Linked DNA regions of Homo sapiens: region 1 is linked to region 2. Evidence: fine-mapped expression QTL. A gene starts in region 2. The other region holds a variant in brackets. All regions are shown on one strand. Distances are between the middles of the regions.

Region 1 (9,966 bases), 22 kb after region 2:
TGATCTGCCTGCCTCGGCCTCCCAAAGTGATGGGATTGCAGGCGTGAGCCACTGTGCTCAGTCTCATTCTTTTTTCTCTATTCTTGTCTTTCTGTCCTGTTTTAGAAAGATAGTCTTACAGCTCTGAGATTCTTTCCTCTGCTTGGTCTATTTTGCTGTTGATACTTGTGATTGCATTGTGAATTTCTTATATTGTGTTTTTCAGCTCCATCAGGTCATTTATGTTCCTCTCTAAACTGGCTGTTCTCATTATCAACTCCTGTATTGTTTTATCATGATTCTTAGCTTCTTTGCATTGGGTTAGAACATGCTCCTTTAGCTCAGTGAAGCTTTTTATTACCCATTTTCTGAAGCCTCCTTCTGTCATTTCAGTCATCTCAGCTTCAGCCTAGTTCTGTACCCATGCTGGAGAGGTGTTGCAGTCATCTGGAGTCACTCTGGATTTTTGAGTTTTCAGCGTTTTTGCATTGATTCTTCCTCATCTTTGTGGGCTTATCTACCTTCTATCTTTGAGGTTGCTGACCTTTGAATGGTGTTTTTGTGGGATCTTCTTTGTTGATGTTATTGTTGTTGTTATTGTTTTCCGTTCGTTTGTTTTTCTTTTAACAGGTCACTCTTCCATAGGGCTGCTGTGGTTGTTGGGGTTCCACTCCAGACCCTAATCTCCTTGGTCCTCCCACACCTGGAGATATTACCGGTGAAGGCTGCAAAACAGCAAAGGTGACAGCCTCCTCTTTCTTCTCGGAGCTTTGTCCCAGGGGCACACTGAACAGATGTTGGCCTGAATGCTCCTGTAGAAGGTGTCTGGAGCCCCTACTGGGAGTTCTCACCCAGTCAGGGGGAACAGGATCAGGGACCTGCTTAAAGAAGCAGTCTGGCTGCCCTTTGGCTGAGTGGGTGTGCTGAGCTGAGGGGAATCCTCCTTGTACAGACTGCCTGGACTCTCCAGAGCCAGCAGGCTGGAAAGGCTAAGTTGGCTGAACTGCAAATACAGTCACCGCTTCCCCCCCGCCCCTCCCCTCTTGGTGGCTCAGTCCCAGGGAGTGATCAGAGATCTGTTCATATAACTCAGGCTAGTGTAGCTGAAATTCCTGCAGGGAAGCCCCACCTAGTGAGGAGGGATGAAGCAGGGTCCCACTTAGAGGAGCAGTCTGACCACAGTCTGCTGTGTTGTGGAAAACTCTTCCCGTTCCAGACCTCCTGGACTCCCCAGAGGAGCCGGCAGGCTGGAACCACAGAGATGGCAGCTGCCCCCACTCCCAAGCCCCTCAGGAACTTGGTTCATTTCAGGCAGTCTCCAGCTTCCTGCCACTGGCCAGCTGGAATTCCAAGCCAGTGGGTGTTAACATGTGAGGTGCCATGGGAGTGGGGCCTGCAGAACGATGCTGCTTGGCCCCCTGGATTCAGCCCCCTTCCTAGGGGAAGGCATGGATGGATTTCCCGCCTTGCTGGAATTCCCAGGGCCAGAGTATGCAAAATTCCTGGGTCTCTGTGCATACCAGAGCCACTCTGTTGAGACTCCGCATAGCGCTATGCTTTGGACCCAAGGTCCTGGTGGTGTGGGCTCAGGGGGGGATCTCCTGATCTGCAGGTTGCAAAGATCTATGGGAAAAACGTGGTTTCCTGGGTGGGGTCGCACACTCACTGCCTCCCTTGGCTGGGGTAGGGCCTTCCCTGGCTTCAGAAGGGGCCGTCTCCCCACCCTGCTTTTCCTCACTCTCTGTGGGTTTAGCCATCCACCTAGTGAGTCCCAGTGTGAGAACCTGGATACCTCAGTTGAAGGTTCAGAATTTCATTTGCCGTTTTCATTCTTCTCTGTGATAGCCACTGACTGCAGCTGCTTCTGGTACAGTACTGTTAACTATGTTCAGAATTCACCAGTTTTTCCACTCAAGTTCATTTTTTTCTGGTTCAGTATCTAACTCAGCATCCCACATTGCATTAATTGTCATGTCTTGTTAGTCCTCTCTAGTTTGTGATGATTCCTTAGGTTTTTCTTTTTTTTTTTTTCACGATTTTGTTACTTTTGAAGAATACTGGTCAGTTATTTTGTAGAATGTCTCTCAAGTTGGGTTTGACTTATGATTTCTCATGATTACAGCAAGGTTATACATTTTTGGTAAGACTAGCTACAAATTAATAGTCTAAAAATACTATATTTTTAGCAAATATATCAGAGGTACATGATATCAATATGCATTATTCTTGGCGAAATTAACATAGATCATTTGGTTAATGTAGTCTCTGCTGTGTTTTTCTACTATGCAGTTACTCCTGTTCCCTTTGTAGTTAATAAATATCTTGGGGAGGAATTTACTTTGAGACTTTGCAAATATACTGTTTCTGCTCAAATTTTTGCCCACTGATTTTAGTATCCATCTTGTCTGCAACAATTATGGCTATGGTGCTCTGATGGTGATTCTCTATTTTCCCCATTCTTTCTACATTTATTGATTGGAATGTTTCTATATGGAAGAGCTGTGTCTTTTTCTCCCCATTTATTTATTTATTCAGTTATTTGCTTATATCTGTATGGAATTATGGATATTTATTTTATTACTGGATTATAATCCAATACTATTTTTATTTCTTTTATTGCTCAAATTGTTCCCTCCTGGGTCATTGAGAACTCTTTCAGGTTGGTTCCTGGAACCTTTTGACAGGCTTATCCTTTTTTGAGAACTTTCTTACTTTCTGACACTGTAAGATGATCCAGGCTTATCTTATATTTTCCCTGCCCCAGCCCTAGAATCAACCACTTTTTCAGGAAGCCCTGGTTTATTGTAAAATGATATTCAAAACCAAGATCCGGGTGCTTGGTGTGCTTATTGCTACTGAGATGTTTATCTTATTAGTGGACAGATCTAGGATTTCTGTGTATATACTAACCCATGCATATACCTATATCTATTTCTAAATCTATATGTACACCTACACTTATGTAAAGAAACCATGAGTTTCATCCAATACCACAGAGTTCATTCTAGTCTTCCTCCCTTCTCTAATTGTAGTTTATTTCTTTGACAGTAAGAAATCTGACTCTCTTTATCTGCAACATGTTTGATTATTTGTTCAACCCTAATCTACACATACAGTTGTTTTGGAATTGCGAACCCATACTTCTGTTACTATTTGACTTTTTTTTTTTTTGAGTTACTGATTGTCTTTTTTTTTTTTTGAGATGGAGTCCCCCTCTGTTGCTCTGCTGGAGTGCAGTGGCGTAATCTTGGCTCACTGCAACCTCTACCTCCCAGGTTCAAGAGATTCTCCTGCTTTAGCCTCCCAAGTAGCTGGGACTTACAGGCACCTGCCACCGTGCCTGGCTAATTTTTGTATTTTTAATAGAGACGGGGTTTCACCACATTGGTCAGGCTGTTCTCGCACTCCTGACCTCAGGTGATCCTCACACCTCAGCCTCTCAAAGTGCTGGGATTACAGGTGTGAGCCACTGTGCCTGGCCTCTGATTGACTTTTAATTTGTAATTATGGAGAACTGTTAGGGAAAGCAACATACTAGGAGATGGATTTTGATAGTGATAACTTTTATCAGTTTAATTAACTTAGGTATCATTCCTATCAACTTTTCCTTCTATAGTTTACTTTGCCTTATGTAATGTACTAAAGATATAAGACTGGCATTATAGCATATCATCAACTAATTTGCCTGAGTATGATCATAAGAAAATATTAAACATCTTTTCTGTTGCAAAGATCTAAAAACCACAGATTGTTGGAGTAACTTTGAGGTGACAGATATTCAATGCTTCTTAAAAATATATATTTTTTCTGAACACAAAAGAGGTGTATACTCAGAAGAAAAAGTCACACTTTACAGAAATAAATGAAACATACAGAAATTCCTCATAACCCTTTATGACAACCACTGCGCACCCACATATACCAGATAACTGTTCAATGCTTTTTTAAACTTGAACATTTTATCATATTTTTTGAGGTTTACTTTTGTAAATTTGCCAGAATGATAAACGGCCAAATCCCACTGTACATCTAGGAAACTAATACAGATGTTAGGAGAAATTGTGGGATTTTGATAGTATTAAGGTATTTTTCTGGGCAGGGTTTTTTTCTAGGCAATGCATGACTGCACCCAAACCGTAGCTGATATCTTTATGAGTTTCTCAAGAGAAATAGTGGTATGTGCATAATGCCCAGTGGCAAGTGAAAAACAAGGAATTAAGAGATACTTCTTCCTGGCATCTCTTTTTTTTTTTCTTTTTCTTTTATTTATTTATTTATTTTTATTTATTTTTTTTATTGATCATTCTTGGGTGTTTCTCGCAGAGGGGGATTTGGCAGGGTCACAGGACAACAGTGGAGGGAAGGTCAGCAGACAAACAAGTGAACAAAGGTTTCTGGTTTTCCTAGGCAGAGGACCCTGGGGCCTTCCGCAATGTTTGTATCCCTGGGCACTTGAGATTAGGGAGTGGTGATGACTCTTAACGAGCATGCTGCCTTCAGGCATCTGTTTAACAAAGCACATCTTGCACCGCCCTTAATCCATTTAACCCTGAGTGGACACAGCACATGTTTCAGAGAGCACCGGGTTGGGGGTAAGGTCATAGATCTTACACCATACCCCAACAGCATCCCAAGGCAGAAGAATTTTTCTTAGTACAGAACAAAATGGAGTCTCCTATGTCTACTTCTTTCTACACAGACACAGCAACAATCTGATTTCTCTATCTTTTCCCCACATTTCCCCCTTTTGTATTCGACAAAACCGCATCATCATCATGGCCCGTTCTCAGTGAGCTGTTGGATACACCTCCCAGACGGGGTGGCGGCCGGGCAGAGGGGCTCCTCACTTCCCAGAAGGGGCGGCCGGGCAGAGGCGCCCCTCACCTCCCGGACGGGGTGGCGGCTGAGCGGAGACGCCCCCCACCTCCCGGACGGGGAGGCTGGCCGGGCGGGGGCTGCCCCCCACCTCCCGGACGGGGCGGCTGTCGGGCGGAGATGCTCCTCACTTCCCAGATGGGGCGGCTGCTGGGCGGAGGGGCTCCTCACTTCTCAGACAGGGCAGCTGCCGGGCGGAGGGGCTCCTTACTTCTCAGACGGGGCAGCTGGGCAGAGACGCTCCTCACCTCCCAGACGGGGTTGCGGCCGGGCAGTGGTGCTCCTCACATCCCAGACGGGGCGGCGGGGCAGAGGTGCTCCCCACATCTCAGACGATGGGCGGCCGGGCAGAGATGCTCCTCACTTCGTAGATGGGATGGCGGCCGGGAAGAGGCGCTCCTCACTTCCCAGACTGGGCAGCCGGGCAGAGGGGCTCCTCACATCCCAGACGATGGGCGGCCAGGCAGAGATGCTCCTCACTTCCCAGACGGGGTGGTGGCCGGGCAGAGGCTGCAATCTCGGCACTTTGGGAGGCCAAGGCAGGCGGCTGGGAGGTGGAGGTTGTAGCGAGCCGAGATCACGCCACTGCACTCCAGCCTGGGCAACATTGAGCACTGAGTGAACGAGACTCCATCTGCAGTCCTGGCACCTCGGGAGGCCGAGGCTGGCAGATCATTCGTGGTTAGGAGCTGGAGACCAGCCCGGCCAACACAGCGAAACCCCGTCTCCACCAAAAAAATACGAAAACCAGTCAGGCGTGGCGGCACGCGCCTGCAATCGCAGGCATTCGGCAGGCTGAGGCAGGAGCATCAGGCAGGGAGGTTGCAGTGAGCAGAGATGGCGGCAGTACAGTCCAGCTTCGGCTCGGCATCAGAGGGAGACCGTGGATAGAGAGGGAGACAGAGACTGTGGGGAGAGGGAGAGGGAGAGGGAGACC[G/A]TGGGGAGAAGGAGAGGGAGAGGGAGAGGGCAAAGTAGAGGAATTTTCCCCTGGCATCTCTTTCAGCCACCAAATGACCACAACTTGGTGCCTTATATGAAGTATAATTTGGAACCAATCTCATCCTGAAGTCATATCTCATTAATGAGTAAACACATCTGAGATGTTTCATTCTGCAAATTTTTTTTTTTTTTTTTTTGAGATGGAGTCTTGCTCTGTTGCTCAGGTTGGAGTGTAGTGGTGCAATCTCGGCTCACTGCAACCACCGCAACTCCACCTTCTGAGTTCAAGTGATTCTCCTGCCTCAGCCTCCCAAGTAGCTGGAATTACAAGCGTGAGCCACCACGCCTGGCTAATTTTTGTATTTTTAATAGAGATGAGGTTTTACCATGTTGGCCAGGCTGGTCTTGAACACCTGACCTCAAGTGGTCCACACGCCTCGGCCTCCCAAAGTACTGGGATTACAGGTGTGAAGCACTGCACCTGGCCTGCAAATGCTTATATCTTCTTTCACCAAGTTAGGTACTGGGGGTATTAAAATGAATGAAGGTTGGTTGTTACCATAAGGATCTTTAAGGGAAGAAACACAGGTAAGCCAATAATTGTAATATAACATGAATAGTGTGATTTAGGAGTGCAGAGGTGGGAGGGACCCCTGCTTGGAACTTTACAGGGGAGGTGGTATTTAAACTACTCTTTAGTACCTGGCTTCTCTCTGTGCCATCACTCGGCAATGAATTTTTTCAGTCCTGTGCTAATTGAAGTAGTTTTCTAAACTCCATTTTGTCATCTGTTCAATTCCCTTTTAATGAAGTTCTTTATATTTTTAACATGTCTGTCTGCTCATTTTATTCCTTTCCTGGAGAACTTCAATGCTTATATTTTAGGTAAAGAAGGGAGTTCAGAATCTTTTGTGTAACATCCAAGTCCTGCAGGTCAGTCCTCAGCCTGTCCACTCATCTCTTCCTCCTCCATACACCCCTTTCTCCAGCTACACTGAACTGCTCCCCCAAAACAGGTGCTTTTTAATGTTTGGCTCCATGCCTTTGTTCTGTTATTCTGTCTCTGTGAAAAGCTCCTCCCTCATCTGTGCTTTCTGCAATCATACTCTATTTCAAGGTCCAGCTCAAGTTCCATGTCTTGCATGAAACCATTTCTTATCCTTCTAGCTATCTCCCAAGTTTGAATAGTTTCTTCTTCTAACTCCTCACTTTGTCTTTTTTCTCTACTATATTGTTAGCTTCCTGTGGGTCAGCCTCTTCGTATTTCTTACGGTATCTTTAACCACATATCCTTAATTACTTTTTAGCCATTTTATACTGAGGAATTTTATGAATATCTTGGCTTTGATCTTTTGCTTCTGGATCCTCTTTAGACCCTCACGTTTGTTTATTTATCTCTAAATGTTTTAATTCTAGTGCTAGGTCTTCTGGGTTCTAGGACAGCTGGATAGAACTATGTGTTAAGACTTTTCATTGAACATTAACTGCTTATGTGGACTCAGTCAAATGTGTTGATTAAAGGCATGCATTTTGGAATCAGACAGAACCAAGCTCTAGCCCCAGCTCTGTTTTCTCTTGAAAAAGTTACTTAACCTCTCTAAGCCTTAGTTTCATCATCTTTAAGTTAGGCTAAAAATACTACCTCCTGCTGACAGGTTTTGTGAGAATTAAAGTATTTAGCATAGTGCCTAAAACATAAAAGTGTGCAATAAATGTTAAATTCTTTGTCTTTACCTGTCCCTTCTTTTCCTCTCCCTTCTCCTTTTCATTCCCTCTTTTATTTTTACTCCCTAATCCCACTTCCTTTTTCTTCTCCATGAAATATCATTACTGTTTATGAAATTAGTCTGTTTTGCTAATATCCAGCTTCTTTTAGGATTTTTTTTTGGATTCAGAAGTTATCGGCAAATTAATAATTTTTCATGTGTTAATGCGGCAGGTCACCATAAATAAATTGCCTCGTGATGGGAATTTTGTCATTCTGGTACTTTCAGTTGTACTCAATTCTTAGCTGTATATAGGTGTTGCATTGATGAAAACCACTTTTTTAGGGGAAAGGCATCAAAATCAGTGGCTTATTTGTAGCACTATTGTATTCTCTTATATAGTAATGTAATACTAACCTAAATCTTAATGTATTTTCTCTAATTTATAGCAAATAATTTTCTTTTTTTTTGAGACAGAGTTTTGCTCTTGTTGCCCAGGCTGGAGTGCAATGGCGTGATCTCGGCTCACCACAATCTCTGCCTCCCAGGTTCAAGCAATTCTCCTGCCTCAGCCTCCTGAGTAGCTGGGATTACAGGCATGCACCACCATGCCCAGCTAATTTTGTATTTTTAGTAGAGATGGGGTTTCTCCATGTTGAGACTGGTCTCGAACTCCTGACCTCAGATGATCCTCCCGCCTCAGCCTCCCAAAGTGCTGGGATTACCGGCATGAGCCACTGCGCCTGGCAGCAAAGAAAATTTTTAACTCTCAAAATCAATGGCTTATTCATAGCACTATTATATGCTCTTATGTAGTAATGTAATACTAACCTAAATCAATATATTTTCTTTACTTTGTAGCAAAGAAAATTTTTAACTGTCTTTGTGCTTTTTTGAGAAAATGGACATTGATGTAAAATGAGGAAGTATGCCCCCCCCAATAAAGCAAGTATACAAAAATCAGTGTTTTAAAATATAGACAGTTTTTAGATAAGAAAAGGAGATGAGAGAATAAGCAAAATATTCTATGCAGAATATCTTTACTTTAATCTTTGATTCCTGCTTATAAGGATGGATGTTCATGCAGCCAGTGAATAAGGAGCAGAGGATTCTGCTACATGAGGACCGGCAGGCTCAGTTTGAATAAATCATGTGGACATTCTTTATTTGTCCAATCATTATTTATTCAATATCTAGTACCCAGGAAATGCACAGCTGGGATAATACAAAAATGATTAAGAAATTGTTTCCTTTAGAACATATAGTGAATTAAGTATGAGAGAAAACATGTCTAAGTAATATTTAAGACAAACTATGGAAATATAAAATAATAGTTTGCAGAGGAAAGAGTGATTAAATTAATTTGCTGTTAAGAAAGCTGTTTGCTATATTTTATATTTGTTTATATTTCTATAAAAAGAAAGGAAGTAAGTAATAGGTTAACTGAACGTGAGATGATTATGATAAGATTCTCAGTCTTAGTTGATCCATAACTGTCATCACAGTTTTAGTAGGGGCTTTTCTAGCTGCTGTATATATTCATCTCTCTAGACATGAGACGTTTGTTCTCTAGGCATCTGGCCTCTCTTAAGCTTTCTCAATTATAACACTCACTAAAACTTTTTTTTTTAACTTTTAGTTTTGGGGGTACATGTGCAGGTTGGATCTATAGATAAATTGTGTATCATGGGGGTTTTATGTACATATTATTTTGTCACCCAGGTAAGTAGCATAGTATCTACTAGGTAATTTTTTGATCCTCACCCTCTTCCCACCCTCCACCCTCAATTAGGCCTCAATGTCTATTGTTTCCTTCTTGGCATCCATGTGTACTCAGTGTTTAGCTCCCACTGATAAGTGAGAATATGCAGTGTTTGGTTTTCTGTTCTTGCGTTAGTTCACTTAGGATAATGGCCTCCAGCTCCATGTTGCTCTAAAGGACATGATTTTGTTTTTTTTTATGGCTGCATACTATTCCATGGTATATATGTACCACATTTTCTTTATCCAGTCTACCACTGATGCTCATTTAGGTTAATTACATGTCTTTCCTTTGGTGAATAGGGCTGCATTGAACATACATGTGCATGGGTCTTTATGGTAGAAGAGTTTATATTCCTTTGGGTATATACCCAATAATGGGATTGCTGGATGGAATGTTAATTCTGTTTTAAGTTCTTTGAGAAATTGCTAAACCGCTTTCCATAGTGTCTGAGCTAATTTACATTCCCACCAGCAGTATATAAGCATTCCCTTTTATCTGCAGTCTTGCCAGCATCTCTTGTTTTTTTGACATTTTAATAGTAGCCATTCTTACTGGTGTGAGCTGGTATGTCATTGTGATTTTGATTTGCATTTCTCTGGTGATTAGTGATGTTGAGCATTTTTTCATATGCTTCTTTGCCGTATATATGTCTCATTTTGAAAAATGTTTATGTCTTTTGCTCACATTTTAATGGGTTTTTTT
Region 2 (9,966 bases):
AACACTGCATGTTCTCACTCACAGGTGGGAATTGAACAATGAGAACACTTGGACACAGGAAGGGGAACATCACACACCAGGGCCTGTTGTGGGGTGAGGGGAGCGGGGAGGGATAGCATTAGGAGATAGACCTAATGTAAATGACGAGTTGATGGGTGCAGCACACCAACATGGCACATGTATACATATGTAACAAACCTGCATGTCGTGCACATGTACCCTAGAACTTAAAGTATAATAATAATTAAAAAAAAAAAAAGTATCCTTGATGAAGTAGCCTAAGCTGCTGCTCTGCCTGTGGAGTAGCCATTTGTTATTCTTTTGCTTGCCTAATAAACTTGGTTTTCACTTAAAAGAAAAATAAGTGGCCAGGCGCGGTGGCTCAGTCCTGTAATCCCAGCACTTTGGGAGGCCGAGGCGGGTGGATCACCTGAGGTCCGGAGTTCAAGACCAGCCTGATCAACACAGTAAAACCCTGTCTCTACTAAAAATACAGAACTGGGCCGGGCGCGGTGGCTCACGCCTGTAATCCCAGCACTTTGGGAGGCCGAGGCGGGTGGATCATGAGGTCAGGAGATCGAGACCATCCTGGCTAACAAGGTGAAACCCCGTCTCTACTAAAAATACAAAAAATTAGCCGGGCGCGGTGGCGGGCGCCTGTAGTCCCAGCTACTCGGGAGGCTGAGGCAGGAGAATGGCGTGAACCCGGGAAGCGGAGCTTGCAGTGAGCCGAGATTGCGCCACTGCAGTCCGCAGTCCGACCTGGGCAACAGAGCGAGACTCCGTCTCAAAAAAAAAAAAAAAAAAAAAAAAAAAAGAACTGGCCTGACATGGTGGCACGCAGCCTGTAGTCCCAGCTACTCGGGAGGCTGAGGCAGAATTGCTTGAACCCGGGAGGCGGAGGTCGCAGTGAGCCCAGATCACGCCACTACTCTCCAGCCTGGGCGGCAGAGCGAGACTCCATCTCAAAAAAAAAAAAAAAAACAAAGGAAAAAGCCACTAAATTTGTGGTTATTAGTTCCACAGTGATAGAAAATGAATATAGCAAAAAATACCATGTTTTTATTTCATTTAAATCAAATCTTATACAATGCTGAATCCTCATACTGCAGGCCTGGCAGGATATTCAATCCCTTACATTACTGAGGCCCTTTCCTCTACCAGTAACAGGATCTCCTTTTCCCACAACACCAGGCGTGGACCTAAGATTGTCCTCAGTCTTTACTACCCAAACTCCTCTGAGGCAAAGGAGCATAAAAGTCTGGTTTTCTACCTGAAGTTGGGAGATAAACAAAACATACATTAACACCTCAATACATTATCTTGACACTAGTAAGTTGTCTGTATCCCATAAAGGATATTTTACTTCCCTTTCTGGTGTCTTGGCACTTCCCAGAAGCTGAGTCACTGATGGTCTGATACCTGGGTCTGCCCCAAGGTGGTAACCTCACCTGCATGTTTCCTCAGGCGTCTGAAGGTCATTGTTCACAAACCTGGATATTGGGTGAATTTCTTGCTTCCTATAGAGGAAAATGGCTCTCCTTTCTCAACTCTGTGTCTTGCCTGGATGGAAGCTTTCTTTGATTTTGGTCAGCCTCTGAGACAATGGACTTGTAGGGGATTTTCTTCATAAGGAGCGGAGATGGAGCAGGAGACCACTTAGGTCTTTGGCAATATTCTATGCAAGAGATGACGGGGGCTTGAACCAGGGCAGAAGTAGTAGGTGAGATAAATGTTTGGATTTTGAATACTTTGAAGGGTAAAGCCAATAATCTGATATGGGGTGTTAAAAGGAAGCCCCAAGTAAGTAGGCTCACATCAACCTAAAAGGAAGGAGCAGAGGCAAAATTAATATAGAGAGTTTATTTGGGCCAACGTTGAGGACTGTAGCCTAGGTCGTACTTCCAGGTTGCTGTGGAGAGTGCTCTGGAGAACAAAATGGGCTGGAGTTTTTAAAGAAAAGAGAACGAATCAGCAGAGGGGGGCATTACAAAAGCTATGTCTCAGGAAGTGTCATTTATTTACAGAAATAACATTGGTTAGTGATTGGCTATACATATTGTTGAACTATAGGGTATACGGCGTTTTATGGCTACTCGGTGTCAGTCTAGGGCCTGCATAGCAAGTGCCTTCAAGAGGTAATTATTTAGCTCAAGGGAGAGTGAGACATGACTGCTCGCATTCCTTAGATAAAAAGTTTTTTTTTTTTTCCTTATCATCTGTCTTCTCACACCACACAATTGGGAGTCTCAAGGGACCTTAGAGGACTTGAGCACATTTCACCTCTTGAAATTAAAGATGAGCAGCTTCCTTTCGTTTAAAGATAAGTCACATGAGAATTTAATTTTGGCAGTTAAAGAATTGGTTCCCCAACCTAAATCTACAGACAAGATGAATTTTCTGATTCATCTCCTTTCCTACAGTTTCTGGATTTTGTTTATCCTCCGATTCCAAATGGCATAATTGCTAGTTCTTTCTCCCACTCTACGTCCATCACCAGGTGGGTGTTTCAGCCTTTTTCTATCCCTCACATAGGACGCTCCAAAGGAAAAGAGAGGTGCTGTTTCCGGGGGGAAAGAACGTAGGATAGTTGAAAACAGCACGGTATTTTATTCACAAACTTGATTTTAAGATGACTGAAAAATCTAATGTGAAATAAACATTTTAAGAAATACAGTATTTGCTCTATTACTGTGTTGTCTACTTTGCCTCACATTTAATCTATTACAACTATAGAGTTAAGACAACTGTGATTCCTAAGCTTAATTCACATGATTGATCAAAACCAAGCTTAATTCTGTTTTAATGTTGTGTATTGCTGGAAGTAACACAAAGCATTAATAAACAAAAGGAATTCGATACCCATTTTGGGTAAATAGTATTTCTGCCTTCATTCTAACATAGATTTCATTTTGGCTTTTAAAAAACAGCTGCTGTGCTATATACCGCCGTATCCAGTAGTTGTTAAATACCTGGGCAACGTTACCTTTCTAGGGCTTGTTTCCTCATACATAAAACCTATTGGTACCCCGGGCCAGCTCTCCTATTGCTTCCTGATCGGGGACGATCTAAAAATCTAATTTAACAAATATCTGGTGTCCAGTGTAAAATAGCATGCTTGATGTCTTATTAGCACAAGACATAGAAGAGCAGGAAATTCACATAAGGAAACGGACCAGCTGTGAGTAGTTCCCAGTGGATATAACCTCTCCTTTGTTGGCCTTTAAATAATAAGTGCATCAGCTGCCGCACCTGCGATGCATGCACGCGTGGAAATCCTGCAAATTCTTAAACTGCCATCCCAAGGCGGAAAATGCAGAATTCCATTTTATTTTAACTTTTAAAGGAGTTAAATTCGGGCTTGGTACTGGGGTCCTCTCGGGGAGGTTTCCCTTACCTCTCCCAATGACGCTACTTAACCTCACCAGCACTCCAACACTGCCCACACTTGCCTACCCAGTTCTAGGTGAACGGTCCCACTGGGCACGGACCAATGGGCTCGTTCCTTCCCAGCGGCAGGGTGGGACCTCCAGCCTGGGCTTCGGAGACCCGCCCCCCGTACGTGGCGTGCGGGCATTGCGCTACGCGGCGCGGGCCGGTTTCTACAGCGCGTGGCGCCCCCCGGCGGCAGCCGGGCTTCAATGCCACGGCCTGACCGGAGTGTCCGCCATGGAGTCGCAGAAAGAGGCACGAACACTCCAGGAGCCCGTTGCGCGGCCTTCTGGGGCCTCAAGCTCTCAGACGCCGAACGACAAGGAGCGGCGGGAGGGCGGCGCAGTGCCGGCGGCGGCTGCCCTGGGCGCAGAGGCGGACGACGACAGTGCGGACGGGCTGTGGGAGCTGCCGGTGGAGCCGGCCGAGCGGAGGCCTGAGTGCACCCGCTGCAGGTGACCGCGGGGCTGGGGGCGGGGACTGCAGCCGGCAGCGGCCTTCGGAGGAGGGTGCGGCGCCCCCTGCCGGGGAGTCGGCGGCTCGGGCAGCTCTGCGATTAGGGCGGCGGAGTTGGCGGGTGCACGTTGGAAATCTCGGAAATGCCAGGCACAGCTACCTAGTAAGAAGCCCTTTTTCCAGGTTCATGATTATCTAACCTTACTTCCTGCAATATGCTGAGCGTATCATGGGATGAGCAGACATCAGTTCTGTTTCCAAGAAACTTAAGCGTCCAATAGGGGAAGTAAGGGGTGATGACAGTAATACTTGTAAAATAGTTACACAGTCATATTTAAGTGGCATAGTTATATCACAGTTAAAAAGCATAAAGTGGATTGGAGGAGAGAGACAGTCTCCTTTACCTATCCTACCAGAACTCTAAATATAGGGCCTTTTCAGGTGTTCATTCTAGGTTCTCTTCAAACCCTACATACGTCCCACTGGTAATTTATAAAATCAGTTTTCATGGTAAATTATCATCTATATCCCAGTGTGTCTAGCTCAGACCTTTCTTCGGAACACCAGACCTGTGCATTAATTTATCAGGTGTTTATTGAGTGCTTTGGTAATCACTGACAATGCAGTGGAGTTCATGTTTTTGTAGAGTATTCTCTTACTGGATACGGATAATAAACCAGCAAACAAGCAATCAAATATGTAATTACAAACTGGGAAAAAAGCAGTGAAGGAAAGGAATGGGTTGCTACTGTAGAAAATAGCTCAATGGTGTCATGAACTATCTCTGAGATTTGAAAGATGAGAAGAATCCAGCCAGGGGAAAAGCATTCCAAGAAGGGGAACAGAAGGACTGAATATGGTTGAAGATCTTTACTGCTTGAATACTTGGAGTATCACACTTTGGACATTTTGACCTTTTCCTAGGGCTGGATTGTAAGACTTCAGAGGAAAGGATCTTGAATGTAGAATGTTTTTATATTTTCTAAATGTACTATGTATAGTTGACGCTCAGTAAACCTCTGAGGAGGATGGAAAATTTGTGATTAGAAGGGACTGTGAATTTGAACATAGGGGTTTGTGAATACAATTAATTTAAACAAGTCGTCTGAGGGGGTTGGGGAAGCATTTAAAAATGTTTGGAGGGGTCTCAATAGGATACTGGAGGAAAAGTGTTTCAAATATAAATCAAAGGCTAAATTACTGTGCTAGTTTTATTTAGTTTTTAGTCTGTTCAGAATTGTTAATTATAAATATATAGGTAAAAATCTGTTTAGCAGAGATTTATTTTATGATGCTTTTTTAAAAAAATGGCTTGCTGAATTTAATCTTTTTTTCAGTTACGTTTAGTTAATACCTTAGGATTACAATTTTCCCCAACATTTCTGCACTTTGCTTATTTCTGGTGAAATTTGCTACCTGTGAAAAGCTCTCCTCCCTCTTGCTATGCATTTTATTTGCTTTAATTAGGTAGACTATAATTCTACACTTTGCTTATTTCTTGTGAAATTTGCTACCTGTGAAAAGCTCTCCTCCCTCTTGCTATGCATTTTATTTGCTTTAACTAGGTAGAATATAATTCTAGAATTATGGAGAATATTTAGGTGTTGTCAATAAAATATAAATGAATTGATGGCTTTTTATATTTTATTTCATTATGCTATTAGAGTTCTACTAGTACCCTGGGTGAACTTCTTTACATTTATGGTTAAAATAGTTTTAAAAATGCATTCTTAGATTTGATTGATCATTGAGTCACAGTTATTTGGCTATTTACTTAAACTGTATTCATTTCTCTGAACACATTACTACAAATGTCACAGCCTAGGGGAGTTCCAGAAATTAGCTTTGTTCAGGAAGTGCAAACTCAGTTTAACTTTTCAGCAGAATCTTGCTCATTATAAATATAACATATCTTAAATATGAATGGAATATTCTTTAAAAGATCCCAAACTTGTAATTTATTATTGCAAGATATAGATTCTATAAATGTATTCTGTCCTTTATGTATGTCTTGTTTACAAAACCTGCCTGTATTCCATTTACCTCTTAGAATACCTTTCCTATCCCCCATTCCCAAACGTATATAATTTTTTTTTTCAGATAAAGACAAAACCTTGGCTGATCTCCCCAGAGTATGTATCATTAGCATTATTTGAGATAACATAAGAAGGCTGAGGGTCATGGGACATGGTAGGTGCACAAAAGATTTGTTGAACTACTTGGTAAAATTCAGTTGTTCAACAAATATTTTTGGAGACCCTTCTTCCAGACGGTGTGATAGGCTATGAAATACAAAGATGAAAAAGAGATGACTTCAGTTCTCCTGAATATCAGGATCTAGTGGAAAGTGGCATATCTATTTAAATGGGGAGCCCTCAGATTAAAAATCCTATGATGTAGGGCAGTTTTTTCAAATTATAGGTAATGAACCGCATCAAATTTTTGAAGCTCTGAAGAAAACAGCAAAAAGTGTTTTCTGAACTTTTCAAAGTAAAAGTATTTGTAAAATAACTTTGTTCAAGTTAAAATCATCTTGCTAATTTAAACATTCTTATTTAAATTATATGACATCAGAGTGGAAAGATTTAAACACTTTTTATATGTGTTTGATATCCTTTGGCAGTCTTCGAAATTAGGCCGTCGTGGAGTAAGAGTCAGAAGGCAAAAGGATGCATGTTCACCAAGTAGTGCTTCTGAGATTTTACTAGAGTCTTTAATTTTGTTAGGAAATAAAGTGTAATATACGTGTGTATATGTATGTATATATGTGTGTGTATATATATATATATATATATATATATAAAAATGCACATAAGCATGTGGTCTTTTTCTTGTTGAATTCTATACTATCAGCTTCTTTCTTAGATGGGTATATGTAAGGTGTTATAGGAACATATAAAAAGGTGCTCCTAACCCTAAGTTTGTATGGTGGAGATGAGGAAAAGATCTGGGAAATCTTGGAAGTGACATGTAAGCTGAGACTGAAGGACATAACGAAATATTTAATCTGGATTCTAATATTTAGGATTAATTAGGGAAGAGACTGGCTGAGGAGAGGGCTTGAGGGAGGAAAAAGTGAGCTCTGGTTGAGGAAACAGTATGTACGAGAGTTTAGTGTATAGAATATATAGTGTATTTGGGGAGTTTGGGAGAAGGGAGGGAGTGGTGAGAGACGAGGCTGCAGAGATTAGTGGTGGTTGCCCCAGGAAGGGCAAAATAAACTATGTCAGGGAGTTTGGGCCTAATGCTCTATAACCCAACAAGCCAGCCACTGTAATATTTTTATATTTGAAAGGTGGTGACAAGTTTGACTTTTGTACATGACTTTTGCTGTATAATTTATACTTTTTTATTTTATAAAAAAAGCAACTGGATGGTGATAAAAGGGTACAAGCTTGACTGGGAAGAATTAGGGCCTCATTCCAGAAATATTTTAGGCATCTTAATTATACTTTTATATCTTCTGTAGTTACTGCTATGCATTTGAGGATGAGTCATAAACCACTTGCAAATCATTGGTCATAGGAATAATGGAATAATGTCTAAAAACAGCATGTTTTAAAACCTGTTTAAGGGAAGAAACAGCAGGGAGAGCATGCACACAAACTGAATCAGATAGACCCTGAGATGGAAGTTTTTGTCTCTCCAGTGTTTTCTTTTCAAAAGTAACAAGCTGTAAGAATTATAATACACCATATCTATGTATTTAACACCCATTTACTAAACACCAGCCATCTGCCAGGCACATACTAGGCCTAGATATTTTATATATGATAATATTTTATTTAGTTCTTGTAACAAACTTTTAGATTGCTGCTTTTTTTTTTTTTTTGAAACGGAGTCTTGCTCTGTCACCCAGGCTGGATTGCAGTGGCGCAATCTCAGCTCACTGCAACCTCTGCCTCCCAGGTTCAAACCATTCTCCTGCTTCAGCCTCCAGAGTAGCTGGGACTACAGGTGCCTGCCACCACGCCTGGCTAAGTTTTGTATTTTTTTTTTTTTGAGATGGAGTTTTTGCTCTTGTTGCCCAGGCTGCAGTGCAATGGCATGATCTTGGCTGACCGCAACCTCTGCCACCCAGGTTCAAGCGATCCTCCTGCCTCAGCCTCCTGAGTAGCTGGGATTACAGGCATGCATCACCACCACGCCTCACTAATTTTGTATTTTTAGTAGAGATGGGGCTTCTCCATGTTGGTCAGGCTGGTCTCGAGCTTCCAACCTCAGGTGATCCGCCTGCCTTGGCCTCCCAAAGTGCTGGGATTACAGGCGTGAGCCACTGCGCCCAGCCTAGGTTTTGTATTGTTAGTAGAAGCAGGTTTTCTGCCCTGTTGGTCAGGCTGGTCTCGAACTCCTGACCTCAGGTGAGCCGCCTGCTTCAGCCTCCCAAGGTACTGGGATTACAGGTGAGAGCCACCGCGCCCAGCTACTGTTTGCTTTTAAATGATGAGGAAATACAGGTAACAGGCAGGTAGCAGAATTGGGTCTCTAGCTCCAGTCCACTTGGTTCCCTAGCTCATGCAAGTACTTGATCTCACTCCAGGCTCCTTGCTGAAGAAGCGTTAAGATTTTGTTTGCACAGTAGGTATTATCACCAGTTGAAATGGCATCACTAAGTCTGCAAGATTTTCAGACTTTTTAAGTTAGTAACAGGATGCTGAGTTTTGGTATTTTCTCTGGCTTTTTAATTCCACATATCATTACCTTTTCCTTATTCTTTAGGCTTGGATATTCTGGAGGAAAAAGTGATGGGAGGAACATCATAAGAGAGAGAGAGAGAGAGAAAATGGGGAAAGGAGAGAGAGAAGGGAAGAGTGCAGGTGTTTAAGAAGAATGCACGAGCCACAAACTGGCACTCTACAGATGTTTTGCTTTGAACTGTGTTTTATCAGCTTTTAAATTAGTTGTTAATAGTTCAAAATCAAGATGTTTCATATAAAAATCCAGATTTCTGGCTTTTGTGACAGTGGGAAGATCTGACAGCTTCAGAGACCACCTTCCTGAGCAGCAGTTGGTTAAGCTCAGTATTATTGGCTGTGCCCGTATATTGGGCATGATCTCTCCAGGTCACTGTAGCTCCCAGTCGTTCCTGCTTAACTCATTTGTGGTTAACTGCTGGCCCCCTATAGGCATTTATGTTTTGATTCTGGGTCTCCTGTACATCATTGTGGTTGTCTGACTGAGCAACTGGTAAATCAGTCTTCAAATTTGGTGGGAAAAGTGAAAAATGGTAATTCCTAGGGTAGTTAATGTAGAATAACTGAAACTGTTGAATCAGTATCAGCACTTAGAAAATAAACTATTTTGGGCCAGGCACAGTGGCTCATGCCTGTAGTCCCAGCACTTTGGGAGGCTGAGGCGGATGGATCACAAGGTCAGAGGAGATCGAGACCAGCCTGACCAGCATGGTGAAACCCTGTCTCTACTAAAAATACTAAAATTAGCCGGGCGTGGTGGTGAGTGCCTGTAATCCCAGCTACTTGGGAGGCTGAGGCAGGAGAATCGCTTGAACTTGGGAGGCGGAGGTTGCAGTGAGCCAAGATTGCTCCACTGCACTCCAGCCTCGGCGACAGAGCGAAACTCCGTCTCAAAAAAAAAAAAAAAAAAAAGAAAACAAACTATTTTGGTAAATTTAAAATCAGCTAGATTATTGATAACTTTTAGGGTAAAAATTTGGGTATTCTGAAGTTTAATTTTTGTATATATCAAAGATATATTCTCAAGAGAAAATTATTATATTAGTTTGTTCTTTCCTGTTAGTATAGAAAATATGTTTATTCTTTGAAATAGTTTATTCATAATATATGTGGAAAGCTAACTGATTTACAAATCATTGTGCAGGCTAATTGTATGTCCAAAGTTAAGCAATGATATATGTCAAGAGGGAATTTTTTCATAACCTTAATTAAGTCTTCAAAGAGGAATGGCCAGTTTTAAAAACCACATTAGAGCTTTCTAAGTGTTTGATTTATTTTCCCTAGGAAAAATAGGAATTATATTTTTACCCTCCGATAGGTAGAAGTTTTCTTCAAAGACTGTAAAAGCACATTAATTCCTTGAGTTCATTTTCCCAAAATTAAT

Evidence for each region. PIP is the estimated chance that this variant, and not a neighbour inherited with it, causes the effect.
Region 1: its variant is the best candidate, but not a certain one, in a credible set for the expression of DTWD2 in CD4 T cells (BLUEPRINT, PIP 0.58).

Annotation. Positions count from the first base shown.
Region 1 is chr5:118,960,242-118,970,207 of GRCh38, reverse strand. The region is part of intron 1 of DTWD2 (DTW motif tRNA-uridine aminocarboxypropyltransferase 2); the gene reads left to right. Among named protein-coding and RNA genes, the nearest start is that of MIR1244-2, 9.4 kb to the left of the region's middle. The variant G/A (reference allele first, on the strand shown) is at 5,792.
Region 2 is chr5:118,982,215-118,992,180 of GRCh38, reverse strand. DTWD2 (DTW motif tRNA-uridine aminocarboxypropyltransferase 2) reads left to right here and starts at 3,634. Exons shown (of 6, transcript NM_173666.4): 1 at 3,634-3,887. The coding sequence starts at 3,670. RefSeq lists a silencer at 3,721-4,050.